Homo sapiens: one gene and its partners. The protein of the gene in region 2 interacts with the protein of the main gene of each other region in a biochemical or structural test. Each region holds a gene or a part of one and is shown on either strand. Other genes may lie near its edges. The genes, in order: HOMER3, TRPC1 and RHOA.

The links.
Region 1: the proteins of TRPC1 (region 2) and HOMER3 form a complex in vitro, tested with the Homo sapiens proteins (one study listed by BioGRID).
Region 3: the proteins of TRPC1 (region 2) and RHOA form a complex in vitro, tested with the Homo sapiens proteins (one study listed by BioGRID).

What each region holds. Positions count from the first base shown.
Region 1 is NC_000019.10:18,934,675-18,938,327, forward strand, and holds part of HOMER3 (homer protein homolog 3), read right to left. Parts: intron 1-3,653. UniProt on the Homo sapiens protein: Postsynaptic density scaffolding protein. Binds and cross-links cytoplasmic regions of GRM1, GRM5, ITPR1, DNM3, RYR1, RYR2, SHANK1 and SHANK3.
Region 2 is NC_000003.12:142,727,007-142,730,659, forward strand, and holds part of TRPC1 (short transient receptor potential channel 1), read left to right. Parts: intron 1-3,653. UniProt on the Homo sapiens protein: Forms a receptor-activated non-selective calcium permeant cation channel. Forms a heteromeric ion channel with TRPC4 or TRPC5 that has reduced calcium permeability compared to the homomeric TRPC4 or TRPC5 channel.
Region 3 is NC_000003.12:49,405,365-49,409,017, forward strand, and holds part of RHOA (transforming protein RhoA isoform 1 precursor), read right to left. Parts: intron 1,443-3,653; exon of another isoform or gene 1,348-1,442; intron 1-1,347. UniProt on the Homo sapiens protein: Small GTPase which cycles between an active GTP-bound and an inactive GDP-bound state.

The DNA of each region.
Region 1 (3,653 bases), on a different chromosome or scaffold from region 2:
CTTTGTCACCCAGGCTGCAGTACAGTGGCATGATCTCGGCTCACTGCAGCCTTGACCTCCCTGGCTCAAGTGACCCTTCCACCTTACCCCTCCACCAAGGAGCTGGGACTACAGGTGTGTGCCATCATGCCCGGCTAATTTTTTCTAGAGACGGGGTCTAGCCATGTTCCCCAGAATGGCCCTTTTCCTGTTTTTTGTTTTTTTTTTTTTTGAGATGGAGTCTTGCTCTGTTGCCCAGGCTGGAGTGCAGTGACATGATCTTGGCTCACGGCAGCCTCTGCTTCAGCCTCATGAGTAGCTGGGATTACAGGCATGCACCAGCATGCCTGGCTAATTTTCATATTTTTAGTAGAGATGTGGTTTTACCATGTTGGCCAGGCTGATCTTAAATTCCCGGCTTGAAGTGATCCGCCTGCCTCAGCCTCCCAAAGTGGTGGGATTACAGGCACAGCACCCAGCCTTTTTTTTTTTTTTTTTTGGGGGGGGACAGAATCTCGCTTTGTCACCCTGGCTGGAGTGCAGTGGCACCATCTCAGCTCACTGCAACCTCTGCCTCCCAGGTTCAAGCGAGTCTTCTGCCTCAACCTCCCGAGTAGCTAGGACTACAGGCCCGTGCCACCACGCCCAGCTAATTTTTGTATTTAGTACAGATGGGGTTTCACCATATTGGCCATGCTGGTCTCGAACTCCTGACCCCGTGATCCACCCACCTCGGCCTCCCAAAGTGTGAGAATGACAGGTATGAGCCAACATGTGGGGTCCCTTTTAATCTTTATCAGGGCTATTTCAACAAAGAGAGCCTCAGGTGGGTGCTAATCTGTCTTTAACACCTGTTATTATTCCTTTATAACAAAGAGATTAGGTCTCAGGCTCTGAGAGACATCAGAAGTCAATGAGAAAGTAATCATCTCATTCTTGTTTTTGTTGTATTAAATGTTTACATGTTTACATTTACCACCTATTTATGACAAAGCAATACCAGTTTTCCAGTTAGGATAGGATATGTTTCCCCCCACCACCCCGGTTTTAAAATAAATTTCCTTAGTTTAAAAATAATTTTTTAGGCCGGGTGCGGTGGCTCACACCTGTAATCCCAGCACTTTGGGAGACCAAGGCGGGCGGATCATTTGAGGTCAGGAGTTCGAAACCAGCCTGGCCAACATGGTGAAACCCCATCTCTACTAAAAACACAAAAATTAGCCAGGCATGGTGGTGGGCGCCTGTAATCCTAGTACTTGGGAGGCTGAGGCAGGAGAATTGCTTGAGCCCAGGAGGTGGAGGTTGCAGTGAGCTGAGATTGTGCCATTGCACTCCAGCCTGGGTGACAGAGCAAAACTCTGTCTCAAAATAAATAGATAAGGCCATGTGTGGTGGCTCACGCTTGTAATCCCAGCACTTTGGGAGGCCGAGGCAGGTGGATCATGAGGTCAGGAGTTCAAGAGCAGGCTGACCAACATGGTGAAACCCCATGTCTACTAAAAATACAAAATCAGCCAGGCATGGTGGCACATGACTGTAATCCCAGCTACTTGGGAGGCTGAGGAAGGAGAATTGCTTGAACCGGGGAGGCGGAAGTTGCGGTGAGCCGAGATCGCACCATTGCACTCCAGCCTGGGGGACAAGAGTGAAACTCTGTCTCAAAAAAATAAATAAATAAATAAATAAATAAATGATTTTTTAGGCTGGGTGCAGTGGCTCACACCTGTAATCCCATCACTTTGGGAGCCTGAGGCAGGCGGATTACCTGAAGTCAGGAGTTTGAGACCAGCCTGGCCAACATAGTGAAACCCTGTCTCTGCTAAGAATACAAAAATTAAAAAAACAAAAATTTTGTAAAAATACAAAAATTAGCCAGGTGTGGTGTGTCTGTAATCCCAACTACTTGGGAAGCTGAGGCAGGAGAATTGCTTGAACCTGGAGAGAAGAGGTTGCAGTGAGCCGAGATCGGGCCACTGCACTCCAGCCTGGCAACAGAGCTAGACTCTGTCTCCAAAAAAAAAAAAAAGACCTAAATTAGAAAGGTAAATTGTTGGGGCCGGGCGCGGTGGCTCACACCTGTAATCCCAGCACTTTGGGAGGCCAAGGTGGGTGGATCACGAGGTCAGGAGATCGAGACCATCCTGGCTAACACGGTGAAACCCCCGTCTCTATTAAAAATACAAAAAAAATTAGCAGGGCGTGGTGGCAGGCGCCTGTAGTCCCAGCTACTAGGGAGGCTGAGGCAGAAGAATCAGAAGAATGGTGTGAACCTGGGAGGCAGAGCTTGCAGTGAGCCAAGATCGCGCCACTGCACTCCAGCCTGTGCGACAGAGCGAGACTCCGTCTCAAAAAAAAAAAAAAAAGTAAATTGTCTGGGTGCAGTGGCTCAAGCCTGTAATCCCAGCACTTTAGGAGGCCAAAGTGAGAGGCTCGCTTGAGGCCAGGAGTCAAGAACAGCCTGGACAACATAGTGAGATCCTATCTCTAAAAAAAATAAGATTAAAGATATTAGCTAGGCATGGTGGCATACGCCTATAGTCTCAGCTAGTCAGGAGGCTGAGGTGGGAGGATCCCTTGTGCCCAGGAGTTTGAGGCTGCAGTGAGCCATGATTGCACTGCTTCACTCCAGCCTGGACAGCAGAGCAAGATCTTGTTAAAAAAAAAAAAAAAAAGAAGGGAGGGAGGGAGGGAAAAAAAAAGAAGAAAGGTAAATTCTAAACCTTCTAGAAGAAAACAAAGAAAGCCTGGTGTGGTAGCTCATGCCTGTAATCCCAGCACTTTGGGAGGCCGAGGCAGGTGGATCATCTGAGGTCAGGAGTTCAAGACCACCCTGGCCAACAAAATCCCATCTCCACTAAAAATACAAAAATTAGCTGGGCGAGGTGGTGGGCACCTGTAATCCCAGCTACTCCAGAGGCTGAGGCAGGAGAATCGCTTGAACCCGGGAGGTGGAGGTTGCAGTGAGCCGAGATCGTGCCACTGCACTCCAGCCTGGGGGACAGAGCAAGGCATTATCTCCAAAAAAAAAAAAAAAAAAAGAAGAAGATCTTCGTGAAAGCACTCATCATCAACAAAACCACGGATAAAGATAATAATGGAAGTATAGAGACGGCACAGGGTGCAGGGAGGTGAGGATGAAGGTATTGCTGGGGCATGTGGGAAAGTGCCCAGCCCAGCCCAGCCACCCATTTGATGTCCCAAAGAGGAGCAGGGTGTGTCCAAAATTAGAGCTACAGGCAGTAGAACTAGGACTCAAGAGCAGGTACAGTGGCTCATGCCTGTAATTGCAGCACTTTGGGAGGCCGAGGCAGGCAGATCATTTCAGGTCAGGAGTTCGAGACCAGCCTGGCCAACATGGTGAAACCCTGTCTCTAATAAAATACAAAAAATTAGCTGGGCGTGGTGGCGGACTCCTGTAGTCCCAGCTACTCAGGAGGCTGAGGCAGGAGAATCGCTTGAACCCGGGAGGCGGAGGTTGCGTGAGCCAAGATCACTGCAGCCTATCTCAAAAAAAAAACAGAAAAATGAACTAGGAATCAAACCGGGGAAGCTTAAAGGGGCTTCAGTCTCAACTCATCCTACAATCCCATCCTGCAGATGGGAAGATAGGGGACCTGCCCAAGATCCCAGAGTGAGCCCAGGAGAAGACTTGGGCCCAGTCTCATCGGTTCCCT
Region 2 (3,653 bases):
AACTGGCATTTATCTTGAGCCTGCACTCCTAACCACTACGTTATATAGATCTGGTTGTAGGTGAATGAGTGAACATCATTTGTGTCAGAAAAGACACATCCATATTTGGACTTACTAGTTGAAATTACATTTTCTTTGTATGGATGCTTTATAAACCTTGATTTCTGTGTATTACATTTGTTCAATGAAGGGTAAAAAGCAAGCATGGTACTTCAGTAGCACCAGAGTAAATCAACTCTAGAGTATCTATGGTGTTCTAGAGTGTCTCATTCTTTTCATGTAGCATTCTTGTTGTACATATGCAAAATGTTCATAACATATTCTTCTTAGGAAAAATTGAGGAATTCCTAAAGCAAAAATTGTGGAGATGAGATGGATATGTGTATGTTAGTGGATGGGTGGCCCTTTGAAAGATGTGTACAGATTAAAGAGTACAATAAATGTAGGAAAGAGAAAAGAAAAAGATTTATAGTTTGTGATAGCTGGCTTTTATGTAAGTAAGTTCGGTAGATTTAGGCAACTGCTGATCTAGGTAGTGGCCACTTAGTAATGGCTGTTAGTGATCTTCATAGTGGGTGAGGATCATCTCAGAGGTAACATTGAATCCTTTCTTTGTAAAGGAAAACCTTAATTGAAAGTTACTGTGCCAGCAATATATAAAGTGAAGTCTAGGACCCCCAGATAAAATTCTCAGAAAGTATACTCATGTTCTTTCTAGAGATAGAAAGCTATATAAATTCAGAGGTAAAACTTAATTGAAACAAGAGCTGACTATAAATATGTTGTTTTATGAAAAATTAAGTAGTGATTCTTACAGCCATGGCTTTGTCCTCTCTCATTGAGAATTAGTGTCATAATGAGCCTCTTTTATTTGTAGGCACCTATGGTGTCCCTCAGGTCTGTTAACAGGAGAAAGGGTAAATAAGTTTATTTAGAAAACACCTAAACTAAGTGTAGTTCATGTTAATTTTCCTCTAAAAAAAAAAAACTTGTTGAGTAGATGGTAGCTTTTAGTATATATTTGTAAATATAAACCTGCATAAACTGTTTGATTTGCTGATGATCATTAATCAGTTCATGTGGAGGAAAGAAAGTATGAAATGATTCAGTCCCTGCCAACTCTCCATGGAGAGTATTTTCAGGAAATCTGATGTGCGGTAAATGAGTTAGAAGCCCCTTCTTGAAATTTCAGCATGGGGTTAGGGGGAGGGATGGAGAGAGCAGGTTTTCACCTTTATCAGTGGGCTCAGCCTAGTCTCAGTGTCCTGTGTCACCTTTGTGGTAAGATTTGCTGTGTTGTAAGGAAAAATGTTTTGATGACTGTATTTCTTTTTTTTTTTTTTTGAGATGGAGTTTCTCTTGTTGCACAGGCTGGAGTGCAGTGCAACCTCCGCCTCCCGGGTTCCAGCGATTCTCCGGCCTCAGCCTCAGCCTCCTGAGTGGCTGGGATTACAGGTGCCCACCACCACGCCCGGCTAATTTTTTTGTATTTTTAGTAGAGACAGGGTTTCACCATGTTGGCCAGGCTGGTCTCAAACTCCCGACCTCGAGTGATCCACCCGCCTCGGCTTCCCAAAGTGCTGGGATTATAGGCGTGGGCCACCGTGCCTGGCCTGATGACTGACTTTCTCCATAAGCTTTGTGTACCTTTGGGCTAAGGATGCTTTAAAAATGTGCAACAACTCCAGAGAGAAGCCAGAGTCAGAAGAAAAAAGTGCAGCATTTCTGAGAGAAGTAATATTAAGCTGCTGTTTTTTAAACACCTTATTTATATATAATGGGCCTTTAAAATTTTTTTACTTATTTGAGAAGAGATTTTGAAGTCTGGTATTAGAGAGGATGGTGGTGGGAAGAAACAAAAAATGCAGAGTACTGAGTATTGGTGTGAAGTGTTATGTTGACAATGGGGCACCTAATGTAAGGAGGTATGTGCTGTGAGGAAAAAACTTTGCAGAAATGAGAGGTAAAGAGGGTATTGTAGGCAGCATTCTATAAACACTTCACAAATCATCATAGACATAGCATTTATGTACTTTATATAGGAAAGCTTTTCAAATAACCAAAGTTTTACAATGTAATAGTTGAAAAACATTGCCATGGCGAACGGTTCAGGGATACTTTAACAACAGCAACGAAAGACTCAAATTGCGAAAATCTTAGTGGATAATTTATCTCTAACAGACTAGTAATTCAGCAGCTAGCTGCCTGGTAGTTCTATGATACTGGTAATTCTTTATAGTGATCACGCAACTTTGCTGCTCTTTTTCTGTAAGTCACAATCAAACTATACTTATCAAGCTGTTAATTGTGTTAAGGCACTGTGAAAGTGCTTTATCAAGAAAGTACTGAGTACATCCCTATCCTTTAGGAGAATATTCTTTAATGGAGATGCTCTCTTGTGCTCTAGCGAGGAGAAGTAAGGAAACAAAAGTATGTTTGTATTAAATATATCTGTCTGAAGGGAAGAAGCAAGTGCTCAATTTAACTTAAATGGCCTATATGTGATTTGGAGAATGGGATATTACGTGTACAGGGTCAGTCTTTTATCTGGGCAGTTAAAAAAAATGTAACCCAAGCCAGACTCCTAGCTATACCTTGTATATAGACTTGGAGGAAGAGTGTGAAAAGATTAAATTTTATTATATAGGTATTATCGTAACCTAATAATTCCTCTTCTACCTTGCTGCCAGTGCTCTAAATATCTTCTTCATTGCTAACTCTTCCAAATTTAATGATACTGAGAAATTTAAGATTTAAGATCAATAGTTGAATAGGTAATGAGGATTTCAAAAGTTATCACTAAGATGTGATTAACTAATGACTTTTAGGAGCCTAGATGAATGATAAGGACTAAAAGAATTCCAGCACTGTATCAATATAGTCATGAGACTCAGTAGATTTCTTTGGATGCCAAAGCTTTGTTATGTATAAAGTGGGGGTGACTGGCACTGTTATTAATAGCTTCTGTTAATTTTTAAACATATGTTTTTCTAGATTAACATATTGGCCAGTAATATATTTTTCTAGTTTTATAAATATGTATAATTCAAATGTATATGAGATTAAATTTAAGCAACACAATAAATCCTTTCTGAGACTGTGTTGCAACAACCTGATATAAACTAAGTTTTAAACAACTTACAGCAGCATTGTGAATGGGATCTCATGTCATTTATCAGACTCTAACTACAAAATAAACATTGCTTTTGACTATTTTTCTAATAGAGTTAAGAATATGCTGTTTATAATTTTTATCAACTGATTTACTATGAAAAAATCAGCATTACCTTCTGTGCTATAGTGTAATTTTTTCAGGCAGCAGTGTGAATCTTTGCTCTTTTGCCAAATGATATTCATTATTATTAATGGTCCTCATTAAGATTCATAAGCAACTAAGAAATTATGGTAATAATTGTCTTTTTACAAAAATGTTCAAAGTGTTATAAACAGTTTAGCCTACCATGTTTTTTAGTATCTTTAATTTTGAAGGTTTCATTTACAATAATATGGTTATAAATACATTGGGGTCTGTAATACGAGTTTTGCACATTTGATAAAGCTACATTTTAAATCATTTTCACTGTAAAAAGTCTGCATGGGTTTTTTTTTTTTTTCCTTTTTAAAATTTGGTTCAAGCTAATTTGAAGTTTGAT
Region 3 (3,653 bases), about 93 Mb from region 2:
AGGTTGCAGTGAGCTGGGATCACGCCATTGCACTCCAGCCTGGGCAACAAGAGCAAAACTCCATCTCAAAAAATAAATAAATAAAATAAGTTAGTTGAAGGGCTACATGTCTGGCACTTGAGGTAAGTGCTTCTCTCTCACTGAAATCTCATGGCGCTTCCTTACCATTCCCTTTCTACAGAAGAAAAAAACTGAATTACAAAGGAGACATACTACTGCCAAGGGTCTCAAGCCATCAAGTGTCAGAGCTAGTATTTAACTGTCAGTTTCTCTCCAGAATCCATGCTCTTAAATAAGATACTCTACTGCCTTTTCTTTCCTTCTTTTTTTTGTGTGTATGTTTGAGACGGAGTTTCGCTCTGTTGCCCGGGCTGGAGTGCAGCAATCTTGGCTCACTGCAACCTGCGCCTCTCAAGTTCGAGGGATTCTCCTGCTTCAGCCTTCCGAGTAGCTGGGATTACAGGCACTCACTAATACACTCGGCTGATTTTTGTATTTTTAGTAGAGATGGGGTTTCACCATGTTGGTCAGACTGGTTTCGAACTCCTGACCTCAGGTGACCCACCCACCTCGGCCTCCCAAAGTGCTGGGATAACTGGCATGAGCCACCATACGCAGCCTGCCTTCTGTTTCTGAACTTAAGATCTTCAAAAGATAAACAGAGCTTCATTATGAATAACTGGAAAAGTTAAACAAGAGATTTCATCCAGAAAAGAAATTTTCCACACACACAAAAAAACAGGTATTTCCAACAAAGCTGCCATATCACATAATAAAATTATCTTGTAGAAAAAAGCATTAACAAAGTGTTACAACATTAAATATCCATCTTAAATTTACTTCCTTAACCTCTCAAAGCCTATATCCCAAACAAAGTTACAAAAAAAAATCCCAGTAGTAGAGCATATGATCTCTAGGTCCATGGAAGAGACACCAGAGAATCACAACTCATCTGCAACATACAGACTAGGATACAATGGCTAGAAGAATACAGTAAAATAAAAATGTATACATAACAAAAGTTAGAATGCTCAACCATATACTTGAAGTCAAAACAAGCAACTTTTTTAAATCATGGGACTGAATCCTTGTGCTTTAGAGCAGCTATAAGCTTCAGAAATTAAAAATCTTGGCCAGGGTAGCTCACGCCCGTAATCCCAGCAGGAAGCTGAGGCGGGTGGATTGCCTGAGGTCAGGAATTTGAGACCAGCCTGGCCGACATGGTAAAATTCTTGTCTCTACTAAAATACAAAATACAAAAATTAGCCAAGGGTGGTGGGCAGGTGGTGGATGGCACCTGTAATCGAGCTAGTGGGTAGGTTGAGGCACGAGAATCGCTTGACTCACATCTTTAATCCCAGCACTTTGGGAGGCTGAGGCAGGAGGACAACTTGAGCCCAGGAGTACAAGATCTGTCTGGGCAACATAGCAAGACACCATCTCTAGTACAAAAAAAGAGAAGAAAAAAATAAAGCAAAAAAATTTTAAAAACAAATCCTTAGTGGCTCATGCTTGTAATCCCAACACCTTGGGAGGCCAAGGTGGGTGGGTCACGGGGTCACGAGGTCAAGAGATCAAGGCCATCCTGGCCAACATGGTGAGATCCCGTCTTTACTAAAAATACAAAAATTAGTCGGGCATGGTCACACACACACACCTGTAGTCCCAGCTACTCTAGAGACTGAGGCACGAGAATCGCTTGAACCTGGGAAACAAAGGTTGAAGTGAACAAAGATCACTCACTGCACTCCAGCCTGGGTGACAGTGAGACCCTGTCTCAAGAGAAGAGAAGAGAAGAACCAATGACTTCAAATAAAATAGGCAGAAGTCACTAAGTCAAGGAAATTAATATTATGAAATCCTTTCCGTTTTTTTTTTTTTTTTTTTTTTTTTGAGTCTTGCACCGTCTCCCAGGCTGGAGTGCAATGGCTCGATCTCTGCTCACAGCAACCTCCGCCTCCCAGGTTAAAGTGATTCTCCTATCTCAGCCTCCTGAATAGCCGGGATTATAGGCGCCTGCTGCCACGCCCAGCTAATGTTTTGTATTTTTAGTAGAGACAGGGTTTCACCATGTGGCCAGGCTGGTCTCAAACTCCTGACCTCAAGTGATCCACCTGCCCAGCACTTCCAAAGTGCTGGGATTACAGGCATCAGCCACTGCTCCCAGCCAGGAATTCCTTTTTATATTTGTCCAAATTATCATATTAGTTTACTATTTAGTCAGAATGGAATTAGATCTACTCCTACTCACAGTGATTCTAGTTTTTTTTTTAATATCAGATCATGTCATTCCCTTTCTAAAGAATATCTAAATGACTTCTAATCTCAGAACAAATCCAAAGAATTTCCCATGTCCTAAAGGCCCTATATGATTTGGCCCCTGCCCACCTCTCTAACCTCTTTTTACCTCCAACTTTTCCTTTCACTCCACTTCAAACTTACTTCATTGGCTGTGTATGTTTTCCTCTTTCCCTTCACTTAAATTTAAGATACTATCATAAATATGCTTAAATATGGCCAGACATAGTGGCTCTCACCTGCAATCTCAACACTTTCAGAGGCCAAGGGGGGCAGATCACAAGGCCAGGAGTTCGAGAACAGCCTGACCAACATGGTGAAACCCCGTCTCTACTAAAAATACAAAAATTAGCTGAGCACAGTGGCGCATGCTGGTACTCCCAACTACTCCAGAGGCCGAGGCACAAGAATCACTTGAACTAGGAGGCGGCGGTTGCAGTGAGCCGAGATGGCGCTACTGCACTCTGGCCCGGACGACAGAGTGAGACTCAGTCTCAAAAGAGAAAAAAAAAAAAATATATATATATACACACACACATACACACACGTATATGTACACATATATATACGTATACACGTATATGTACACATATATATACGTATACACGTATATACGTATACACAAGTATATATACATATACACACACACACATATGCTTAAATATACATACTCATCCTCTTCAAAAAATAAAATCAAGCTAAGTTTGGCATAAACTGCATACTGATTGCAATTTAGCAAGAGTATTTGATGTTTTTCTTTATTATTAGCTATAAAAATGTATTTGGATGAAGCATCAATAAACTGAGACCAACACCCAGAACGAGCAGCTTCAGTGCCTGATTTTCAGTCACATGACTATCGTAATTATGAACATACCAAGGCCTTCACTTAATACTACAGCTCCACAGATTAAAGATGAGGGATTTTATAGTAATTACAAACTTCAAACCGTCTTGGAAATTTTAATCCCACAAATGAGCATGTCCCCAAAGAGCCCCATGTATAGCAAGGCATGTAACATTAAGTTCAAAATTTAGTTATATTAATGTGTAGTTACAAGCAAACAGTTCCATTGGGCAGGTAAACAAAGGAATAAACTAAATGGCAGAGTCAGACAAAATACTTAAGATCCTTTTTTTTTTTTTTTGAGACGGAGTCTCGCTCTGTTGCCCTGGCTGGAGCACAGTGGCGCGATCTCAGCTCACGGCAAGCTCCGCCTCTCGGGTTCACGCCATTCCCCTGCCTCAGCCTCCAGAGCAGCTGGGACTACAGGCGCCCGCCACCACACCCAGCTAATTTTTTTTGTATTTTTAGTAGAGACGGGGTTTCACCGTGTTAGCCAGGATGGTCTCCA